Linked DNA regions of Homo sapiens. The protein of the gene in region 2 interacts with the protein of the main gene of each other region in a pairwise test. Each region holds a gene or a part of one and is shown on either strand. Other genes may lie near its edges. The genes, in order: RNF11, PARP11 and GTPBP3.

Region 1 (3,753 bases), on a different chromosome or scaffold from region 2:
AACAGCTACATATTATAGCAGATACCTGAAGGAGAATGGGATTATTTTAGGTAGAAAAGCATCAGTTAGATCAACTTTGTTTTCTTGCACTATTTAGTGTAATCCTGGACTAAGACAATTTTCATTTTAGTAACTGTAAAACAGAAACACTAACTTCGGGCAACTTTGTTTCCTTGTGCTATTTAGAGTAATCCTAGAGTAAGATAATTTTCATTTTAATAACTGTAAAAACAGAAACACTAACTTCAGCCTACTTACTGGGTTGCTGTAAGTTAAAGCTCTCTTCATTAACACTAACTTTCTCTTATTTTACTTTATTTTACTTTTTGAGACAGAGTTTCAAGTGATTCTCCCACCTCAGCCTCCCAAGTGGTTGGGATTACAGGCGCGTGCCACCATGCCTGGCTAATTTTCGTATTTTCAGTAGAGATGAGGTTTCACCATGTTGGCCAGGTTGGTCTCGAACTCCTGGCCTCAAGTGATCCCCCGACCTCAGCCTCCCAAAGTGCTGGGATTACAGGCATAAGCCACTGTGCTCGGCCTGTGAAAATTCTTAATTACTACATAACATTCTCTTGCTAGTAGCCAGTAATAGAGCTATGAAAAAAAATTAAACATTCTCTTGCATTAAGCGAAGTGTTTCAATATATTAAATGTCTGACTTTCTAAAGTGCAGGAGAAAAGGCAAATTTTTCAAAAGCAATCTGAAAATAAAACTTTGAAATGTACAAATTAATTAAAACTTACTCCCGGATCTTTTTTTCTGATCCATCTCTTCCAGGGTCATAAACTCCTTTAGGCAGATGTTGTATAAGACCTATTCTTTGAGCTATCCTAATTTGTTCCTCTTCAGTCAGCTGAGTTGCTAGCCGAGTCTGGCTAGGTGTTGGGTGGTAGACTGGAACTGGAACTTGTTCCTAAAATATTAAAATATAGAGGAAAAAGATTATTTTTTAAAAACCTTTCGAGGGCTTATTTTTTGGTCAGAGATAGAAGGGAAAGGGAGCCCTGGGAGGGGTAGGAAGCTGGGCTAGTGTTTGGCTGTATGACTGTGTTTCACCCTGCCTTAACTTCAGCTACTAGAATAAAACATACACACACCAAAACATTCTCATTCTGCCTAAAGGATATAAACACAGACTTCACTGAACTGGCATGGAATGTTAAATGAACTATTTCCACATGATAAGAGACCAGCCTGGACAACATAGCAAGACCTCATCTCTAAAAATAATTTTTAAAACTTTTTAAATGGACTGGACTATGGCAAAAATAAATCTAAAAGTTATCTAAGACTAACTTTCCCATTTCATAGGACCAAGCTTGCCTACAGTCACTAATTGACAATACTGAAATTAGAATTCTGCTGCTCCTAATCCAACTGATTTTTTACACAACAAAACAATTCAAAGGAATCGTGTGTATAACCCCCACCTTTTTTTGAGATAGGGTCTCCCTCTGTTGCCCAGGCTTAAGTGCAGTGGCACAAACACAACTTACTGTAAACTCAACCCCCTGGGCTCAAGCAATCCTCCAACCTCAGCCTCCTGAGTAGTGGGGCCACAGGGTTGAGCCATGGTGCCTGGCCTATAATAATATTTAAAACTGAGCAACTCTGATGGAATGAAGCTGGGATGGAGTGTGGCCTAGAAGGGATGAGGCTCCCCATCCCCAAGCCCTCACCTTGGTTACCTTTGCAGAATCCTCAGAATCAACAGAGCAGTCTGAAAAACACTACTATCTCAGAAGATGAGATTTTCAGTCTGAAGAATTAAATTATAAGATTTCAGTCTCAGCTCGGCTACTTACTGTGATTGCTTGGACCAAGTCTCTTAATGTCTTTGAATAAAGCAGATAACAGTACCCACTTTAAAGAGTTGATATAATCATGAGATAACTAAGAGCTTTGTAAATGCCAATATTTGTAAATTATTCTAACATCTCCCCAACGTCATGATTCTCCCCATCATGATTCTCTGCTTTGCAGACTTTAAGCTAAGTGCTACTGTCCTTGGCTTTGGTCCTGGCTTTCTGGCTTCTCTTTGAATACTACAAACTCTTGGACTCTGTTGTGATCTCTGCCAGCTCTGAGTTCTTCAACCCTTGAATTACCATTTCCAGTCTAAATTACCTTCCTGAATCTTAGCCTCAGTCCTAGTTGACCAGTTTTGATGAGCTGTCATCCACACGCAAACTGGGAACAAATTGGTTTAAGACTAAGATAATATAAAGGGTCTCTTAAATCCTTGAACCTAACAAACAAAAATAACTAAATTGTTTTAGAGAAAATAAACTCCAACTATGGGTTTTTCAGAGGCTAGATTTCTTCAGTCTTGTGGTTCACATACGTGTAGAGAACACAGAAAGCAGAACAGAAAAGGAAAGTTCTACTTTACGGGGAAACATTAATAAACATTAAAGAAGAAAATAAAAACTATATTTTAATTCACGTTATGAGTGTATTTTCTCCTTTGGTATTTTTTTGTTAAAACAAAGGAACCCTCTCTATATCTTTTAGATATTTAAAATGATTGAACAATCTAATTTCAGTTTACATGGTTCAGAAAACCATAGAGGAAAGGAAATGACTAAGACCTCCTGATATTTTAAAGATGAATGTGGCCTCACCCTTCTTACCACACATGCCTAATTTTAAATTTTAATTCCCATGATACTTGTTTTAAAATGGCTTGATATCTGAGTTATCAATTGTTTCATAACTAGACAGCCACTGATTTTCTAGGCAGCAAAATGGAATCCTGATTCAATTGTTGGCTAACAGACACTGAGTGAGTAGAAGATTAGACAGGGGTATAAAAACAACAATTTTAAAAGATGTGATGGCTGGGCATGGTAGCTCATGCGTGTAATCCCAGAACTTTGAAAGGCCGAGGCAGGCGTATCACCTGAGGTCAGGAGTTCGAGACCAGCCTGGCCAACATGGTAAAACACCATCTCTACTAAAAATACTAAAATTAGCTGGGCGTGGTGGTGCACGCCTGTAATCCCAGCTACTCAGTAAGCTGAGGCAAGAGAACTGCTTTAACCCGGGAGGCAGAGGTTGCAGTGAGCCAAGATCTTGCCACTGTACTCTAGCCTGGGCAACAGAGAGAGACTCCATCTTAACAACAAAAAAAGATATGGATTTGGGGGTGGTTCCCACCATTCCCTATCTGCGAACACTATATGGTTTATGTTCAACACCTGCTTCCCCTCTGAGAATCAGGAATTTTGTCATATGCTAGGCAGTGGGTGCCTAATCAGTACCTGGGGCACTGAGTCTCCAAATGAGCTTCTCTGGCAGAAAACCTTTCATATATGTTGAAGGAATTAAGCATGTCCTGTGTGACTCCACTAGGAGATAACTCTTGGAAGCTTGTGCTTAGTTCCCTTTAGACCAAAGCACCTTTCCCCTTAGCTGATTTTGCTTTGATTCTTTGCTGTAACAAATCATAGATGTGAGTAAGATTATATACTAAGTCCTAAGAGCCCTCCTATTGAATCACCAAACCTGGGGACTGTTTTGAGGACCTCCAACGCCAGTGCTAGGTTGTGCTCCCACTTTATATTTGCAAAGCTACTGTGTTTCGTCCCCAGCTGAAAACAAATGAAAAATAAATAAATATTTTGATTAGCCTATTTCAGGGCCTAAATATGGACCTAATGACAAAAGGTATACAAACACATCTCACTGCAACCTCCAACTTCTAGGCTCAAGTAATCCTCCCACTGCAGCCTCCCCAGTAGCTGGGA
Region 2 (3,753 bases):
ACAATAACATCTTCCATTATTATGTCTCATTTTTCATTTTTCTCCCAGATTAAATACTTTCTGAAGATAAGTAATTCTTTTATTATATTATTTGTACTAAAGAATGTGGATATGACGTAGCTAGTAAGGAAATACTATTCTCTATATTCCACAGAAGTACTAGAGCATTCATTTTATAAGTACTTGGAATAACTTTTATATCGTGATGCTAAAATAAAACCAAAATAAATGCTAAAATAAAACCAAAAGTCTTGAGAAACAAACTGACAGAAACTTAAAATATTTCTTTCTTTAATCCTTTCAAAAATCTCCTTGGAAGGAGCAAATAGGCATTCCCTGCAATTAACATGCTACCTTTTTTTTTTTCCAGTTTCATTTTAAATTATTTGAACAAAAAAGAATTTCAATACTTGCTTGAAGAGTCATTTTAGAAAATAGGAGACATGCTTTAAGATTTTTTCCTTCAAGTCCATTCATTCACATGAATAATAAATATGTATTGTCTTCTGACATTTATACCTCCTTTTTCAGACTTCTTATGGCCAGAGCAAGCAAAAAAGAAAATTTGTAACCAAGTTCCAGGGAACAGAAAGCAATACTGTTGTCCACTGTTCTACCATCTTCCCTATGGCTCCCTTAGTCTCTACAAATTTGAAATTACTTCTAGGAGTTGACCAATGGAGATCAATGTAGGTGGAAACAAAGTGAACAACTACCTAATTCTTACGGCCCCAGTAATTGTATGGCTCTGAGAGAGTACGTCCAAGTTAACAATTTAAACTTACCTCAGTGAGTTATTTTATGAGTTTAGAGCAGAGACCATAAGGCATTTTGTAACTGCAAACTGTTCTAAAGAATTAAAAAATGTAAATATACAAGAAGGAAAAGGATAACATGAAAGGAAGCACTTAGAGTAAATAATAATGTTGCTATTTTGTCAACAAATGAGAGATTTGATATTTTTTTAATTAATTAGTTTATTTTTTTGAGATGGAGTCTCACTCTGTCGCCCAGGTTGGAGTGGCGCAGTGGTGCCATCTCGGCTCACTTCAAGCTCCGCCTCACGGGTTCACACCATTCTCCTGACTCAGCCTCCCGAGTAGCTGGGACCACAGGCACCTGCCACCACATCCAGCTAATTTTTTTTGTATTTTTAGTAGAGACGGGGATTCACCGTGTGTTAGCCAAGATGGTCTCGATCTCCTGACTCGTGATCAGGCCGCCTCGGCCTCCCAAAGTGCTGGGATTACAGGTGTGAGCCACTGCGCCTGGCCCAAGATTTGATATTTAAAAGATCAATATTATTAAATGACCTACCAAAATATTTCCAGTCTATTTGTTTTTCTGTCCAATAGTAAGAAAAAAAAAACCCACTCTTTCCACCCCTATTCTCTTTACCATACCTGAAAGCACTGATAGAAAAGGGGGCTCTTTTTATTAAGCGCTGCTTTCCAGTGGTGAGATTCATTTGCTTCATTTCTGTATACAAAGACAAGATATTAGATAAGTCATAAAAGTACACTGTACTATAAAGTGTCATGAAGATTAATAGCCACGCTACGCGATGATCAGGAATCATGGAGCTTCGGGAGTAGCTGGCAAGCATAGTGTATTATGGGTACTTTACCATGCAGCTAGCTATGTACCACGTTGTGGAGGTGTTATTCAAGGAAGCACAGCTTCATTGCTTGACGTAAGCTCACACATAAAGATGCTCATTTCATCCACTGCTCAGTATGCACGGTCTATTCCCCTTCTGTATCACACTTAGGTTAAACAGACACTAAACTAGGAGAGTTCTAAACTTAGGAAAGCTAAGAGTACTAGAAAGAGAGAAATTACAGTATTAAATGTGGTTGGTTTATTAAGAAGAAAAATGTACTTTCATCTCTCCAAAAATTTTGGAAATGATTATAAAACTTGTACAACTCACAGAATTTCAAAAATTTCTACATTTCCTGATTTCTCTTTAATTATATAACTAAACCTAAAAAATAGAAAACCTGGCTAGACCCAGTACAAACTTACATAAAAAGATTCTAGTGATAAGAGACTAAGTACTTAAAGGTATCATTTTCTGCTTTCATCCATGCCTCAGTCATACCAATATTTACCAGGTCCATTTCTTCATTCCTCAAAGTTAAGTAGTGATTCTTAATGTAAGATTCTAGCCAGTTTATCTCATCTAATTGACATCATTCCATTTCAAAATGATTATGTTTACCCACCCAGGCTAAGGCTAGTATAAAGTGTGTTCTGTCCTTTCTGTGTTCTCCTAGACTCTACACATACTGGATTTACCACTGTTCAGGGAAAAAGCAAGATCATCTCAGCATGTGGAGCAAGACCTGTGATGCCATCTTCTTGGACCATCTCATTTTTTAGTTTACTTTTCACCATTTTTATAGAGAAAACCTGAGTTGGCTAGTGGCAGAATGGTTGGAGCTGATAACTGCAAAGAGTACATGTGAAATGCTAATATCCATGCCTCTGAAACAGGATCATTACACAGAGGGTTGGGGAACTCCAGTTATTAGTATATGTAACTCCCATTCCTTAATAATGATATTTTTAATAAACTCTTTTTTCTGAGAGCAAGTTTCCAAAAAGTGTAGTCTACTAAAAAATATTCTTTCAGAAACATGTGGCTTGCTGAATTACCTATCAAATGCTTTGATACAGTTCATCCTCTACATGAGGTCTGGTGTCTGTGCATATCATTCGGTTTCAGTTCTTCCTCAAAAATACTTGTACACATGACTAAAAATGCCTACCAGATACCTTCTGCCTAGACTGCAACAGAGGGACAAATGTCAGGGCCTCTTAAATCCTGCTTATTTGCCTAATGGCATTAAAAAAAAAATGGCTTGTCACGAGCAAGGATCTAATGGTTTTTAACTCTTGATAATTAAAAAAAAAAGCAAGAAAAACAACTTTGGTGGGATAATAATTATTGCATATTTGGTTCCATCAATCCCTTACTGGACAAATCCCCTTCACTGTTTCTGGGCCTTGGTTCATCCAAGGGGATTTCCTAACGTTTCACCACCCTACCCAGCCACAATACACTACTAACACTGTCATAAAGACACTACTCACAGGAATTGAGAAAGAACAGCTAAAGGACCAAGCTGTGTAGCAAACAAAATGTACTTTTATTAAGAAAGCCTCCCATCCAGGTCTTGTTTGCCTCTAAGCAATAAATAGCTGAAACTAACAGCCTGAAACTTGAGGAGCTCAGTTCATCAGGTTTTTCATGGGATACCCCAAAACATGCCCATATAACACAGATGAAATCCAAAGTGGGGCTGATTTCCAGATTATCTGGCTAATCTGTGGAAGAGCCAAATCAATCAGAAAATGACAGAAGGCAATGTCCATTAAAGAAATTGTTTTCTGACAAAGACATCGAGAGAAAGATCACTCAGCTAAAAGTTGTTCTTGAAACTATTGCCAGCTACCTATGACTTTCTCACTTAACATCTGTTTGATCCTTAAAGTAAAAAAGTTCTGGCCAGGCAAGGTGGCTCACGCCTGTAATCCCAGCACTTTGGGAGGTGGAGGCGGGTGGATCAGGAGGTCAGGAGTTCAAGACCAGCCTTGTCAACATGATGAAACGCTGTCTCTACTAAAAATACAAAAAAATTAGCCGGGTGTGGGGGCGGGTGCCTGTAATCCCAGCTACTCGGGAGGCTGAGGCAGAGAATTGCTTGAACCCGGGAGGCGGAGGCTGCAGTGAGCCGAGATCATGCC
Region 3 (2,832 bases), on a different chromosome or scaffold from region 2:
ACCCATCTCTACTAAAAATACAAAAGTTAGCCAGGTGTGGTAGGGTACACCTATGATCCCAGCTGCTCGGGAGGCTGAGGCACGAGAATGGCTTGAGCTCAGGAGGCAGAGGCTGCAGTGAGCTGAGATCACACCACTGCACTTCAGTCTGGGCAACAGAGCAAGACTCTGTCACACACACACACACACACACACACACACACACACACACACACACACTTTGGGAGGCCACAGGTGGGCAGATCACAAGGTCAGGAGATCAAGACCAGCCTGGCTAACACAGTGAAACCCCATCAAAAAAAAAAAAAAAAAAAAAGAAGACTAAAGACTAAAAAAGGAATGAGGCCAGGCACCGTGGCTCACACCTGTAATCCCAGCACTTTGGGAGGCCAAGACAGCAGGATGGCTTGAGTCCAAGAGCTCAAGACCAGCCTGGGCAACATAGTGAGACCCCCCATCTCCATAATTCTGTTTTTTTTTTAAAAAGAAATGACAATTTGTAGAGCAATGAACACAATACCATTTATATATGATACACAAGACAAACATATTTGAAAGGTACATCCACAAGTATGCAAACATTCAAAGTTCTGGAAAGACACACATTAAGCCATGACAACCACAGAAGGGCTAAGGAAAATTTCCATGTTGAAACACTTCTGGGGCCAGGTGTGATAGCTCACGCCTGTGATCCCAGCACTTTGGGAGGCCAAGGTAGGCAGATTACCTGAGGTCAAGGAGTTCAAGACCAGCCTGGTCAACATGGTGAAACCTTGTCTCTACTAAAAATACAAAAATTAGCCTGGCGTGGTGGTGTGCGCCTGTAGTCCCAGCTACTCAAGAGGCTGAGGCAGGAGAATCACTTGAACCCGGGAGGTGGAGGTTGCAGTAAGCCGAGGTCGCACCACTGAACTCCAGCCTGGGTGACAGAGCGAGACTCTGTCTCAAAAAAAGAAAAAAATTAGCCGGGCATGCTGGCACATGCCTGTAATCCCAGCTACTCAGGAGGCTGAGGCAGGAGAAGCGCTTGAGCCCCGGAGATGGAGGTTGCAGTGAGCCAAGGTCGCACCACTGCACTCCAGCCTGGGCAATAGACAGAGGAGGGAAGGGTAGGGGAAGGGGAAGGGGAAGGGGAAGGGGAAAGGGAAAGGGAAAAGGAAAGGGAAGGGAAGGGAAGGGAAGAAAATAAACACTTCTAGATCACCTGAGTTTTTTTTACATTCCTTTGGTATTTGCAAAATAAATAAAAAACTACGAAACAAATATACTGAGATCCTCCTATCTCCATCCCAACCCGGATGCCCCAGCATCAAGGGTCGAACGGGACCTCCATTCAGCCCCATTCCAGGGCCTGAATCTCCAGGGAGTCCCTGCAGGGATCTCACTACCTCTCAGCTGTGTTGCTTCACTATTTGAGAATCAAGTTCTTTCCCAGGCGAATGAGAATCCCAATTGGCCTAAACTGTTTCCAGATCCCCCGAGGCTCCTGGGTCTCCACGCAGCTTGGGTGCGACTTCCCTGGATCCCGTCACTTGCCCACACAGAAGTCCTGGAAGATGATGTCCAGGATCTCCTCGGTACCCCCTCCACCTGTGAGCCGGGTCAGGTGACCCCGGGCCACCCGCAGCGCCTCTGCCGCCAGGGCCAGGTCTTTTGACTGCTTGTAGTGGCCGAGGGCATCCAGGCAACCCTGGAGGTGGTGCTGGTGCCTTGCTCGGGTCAGCAGCGGGGGATCTGTGGACGGGTCCCCACACCTGGAAGAGACAAGAGACATGGTCTCTCCCGACCTTTTACAACCATCCCTTGAAGGGGAAATGGTTGTACCCATTTTGTAGGTTCAGAAATTGAAGTTGAGGGACCCACACTTAAACTGTGGGTCAGGGGAGGCTGGGAGTGGGAGGGGGCTCACACTGCAGCTAGCTCCTTCCTCAGCGCCTCCAGGAGGCCGTCCAGCCCCTCTCCCGTCAGACAGGACAGCAGCAGGTGCGGGGGCAGGTCAGGACCGGGACCTGGGCCCTCCGGGGACAGCAGGTCCGACTTGTTCAGCACCAGGAGGAGGCGCTGGCTGCTGTCACTGGGGCTCTGGGCTCCCACAGAGGCTACGACGGTGGCCAGGAAGTTGCAACTGGAGGGAGAGGCCAGGTCAGAAGCATCCAGCATGGCCAGAATGAGGTCAGCCTGCTCTAGCCTGCGGGAGCAAGGTCAACTGAGCGGGGATCCCAGGTTGAGCAATTGAAGGCACTGGGTGGAGGGACAGTTAGAGGGGCCAGGCAGAGCACTGGGGGAGCTGCGAAGCGTGAGGTCGGGAGGGAGGAGTAGAGTACCAGGGGACCGGCAGAATGTTGGGGGCCCAAGCCGAGCACAGGGGGTGGGGCAGAGCAAGAGGGGCGGGGCACAGTGCAGGGGGAAGGGCAGAGCAAGAGGAGCGGTCACGGTGCGGGAGCGGGGCAGAGCAGGAGGGGCTGGGCACAGTGCAGTGAGTAGGGCAGGGCAGGAGGGGCGGGGCACAGCACAGGAGGGCGGGGCAGAGCAAGAGGGGCAGAGCACTGTGCAGGGGGAAGAGCAGAGCAAGAGGGACAGGGCACAGCACAGGGGCTGGGACAGAGCAAAAGGGGCCGGGTACAGCACTGGAGTGGGGCGACCATGAGTGGCGGGGCAGAGCAAGAAGGACCAGACACACCACAGGGTAAGGGGTAGAGAGCACCAGGGGTGGGGCAGAATGTAGGGGGTGGACAGAGCACAGGGGATGGGATAGACCGCAAGGGGCAGAGCGGAGTGCCAGGGCGGGACAGAGCACGAGAGGGCGGGGCAGAACGTGAGGGCTGGGCGGAG

Evidence for each region.
Region 1: the proteins of PARP11 (region 2) and RNF11 interact in binary tests that used the Homo sapiens proteins (3 or more experiments, as listed by UniProt).
Region 3: the proteins of PARP11 (region 2) and GTPBP3 interact in binary tests that used the Homo sapiens proteins (3 or more experiments, as listed by UniProt).

The regions. Positions count from the first base shown.
Region 1 is NC_000001.11:51,267,120-51,270,872, reverse strand, and holds part of RNF11 (RING finger protein 11), read right to left. Parts: intron 918-3,753; coding exon 748-917; intron 1-747. UniProt on the Homo sapiens protein: Essential component of a ubiquitin-editing protein complex, comprising also TNFAIP3, ITCH and TAX1BP1, that ensures the transient nature of inflammatory signaling pathways. Promotes the association of TNFAIP3 to RIPK1 after TNF stimulation.
Region 2 is NC_000012.12:3,824,755-3,828,507, forward strand, and holds part of PARP11 (protein mono-ADP-ribosyltransferase PARP11), read right to left. Parts: intron 1,480-3,753; coding exon 1,404-1,479; intron 1-1,403. UniProt on the Homo sapiens protein: Mono-ADP-ribosyltransferase that mediates mono-ADP-ribosylation of target proteins. Plays a role in nuclear envelope stability and nuclear remodeling during spermiogenesis. Inhibits the type I interferon activated signaling pathway.
Region 3 is NC_000019.10:17,340,400-17,343,231, reverse strand, and holds the end of GTPBP3 (5-taurinomethyluridine-[tRNA] synthase subunit GTPB3, mitochondrial), read right to left. Parts: intron 2,189-2,832; coding exon 1,910-2,188; intron 1,755-1,909; coding exon 1,529-1,754; 3' UTR 501-1,528; downstream 1-500. UniProt on the Homo sapiens protein: GTPase component of the GTPBP3-MTO1 complex that catalyzes the 5-taurinomethyluridine (taum(5)U) modification at the 34th wobble position (U34) of mitochondrial tRNAs (mt-tRNAs), which plays a role in mt-tRNA decoding and mitochondrial translation.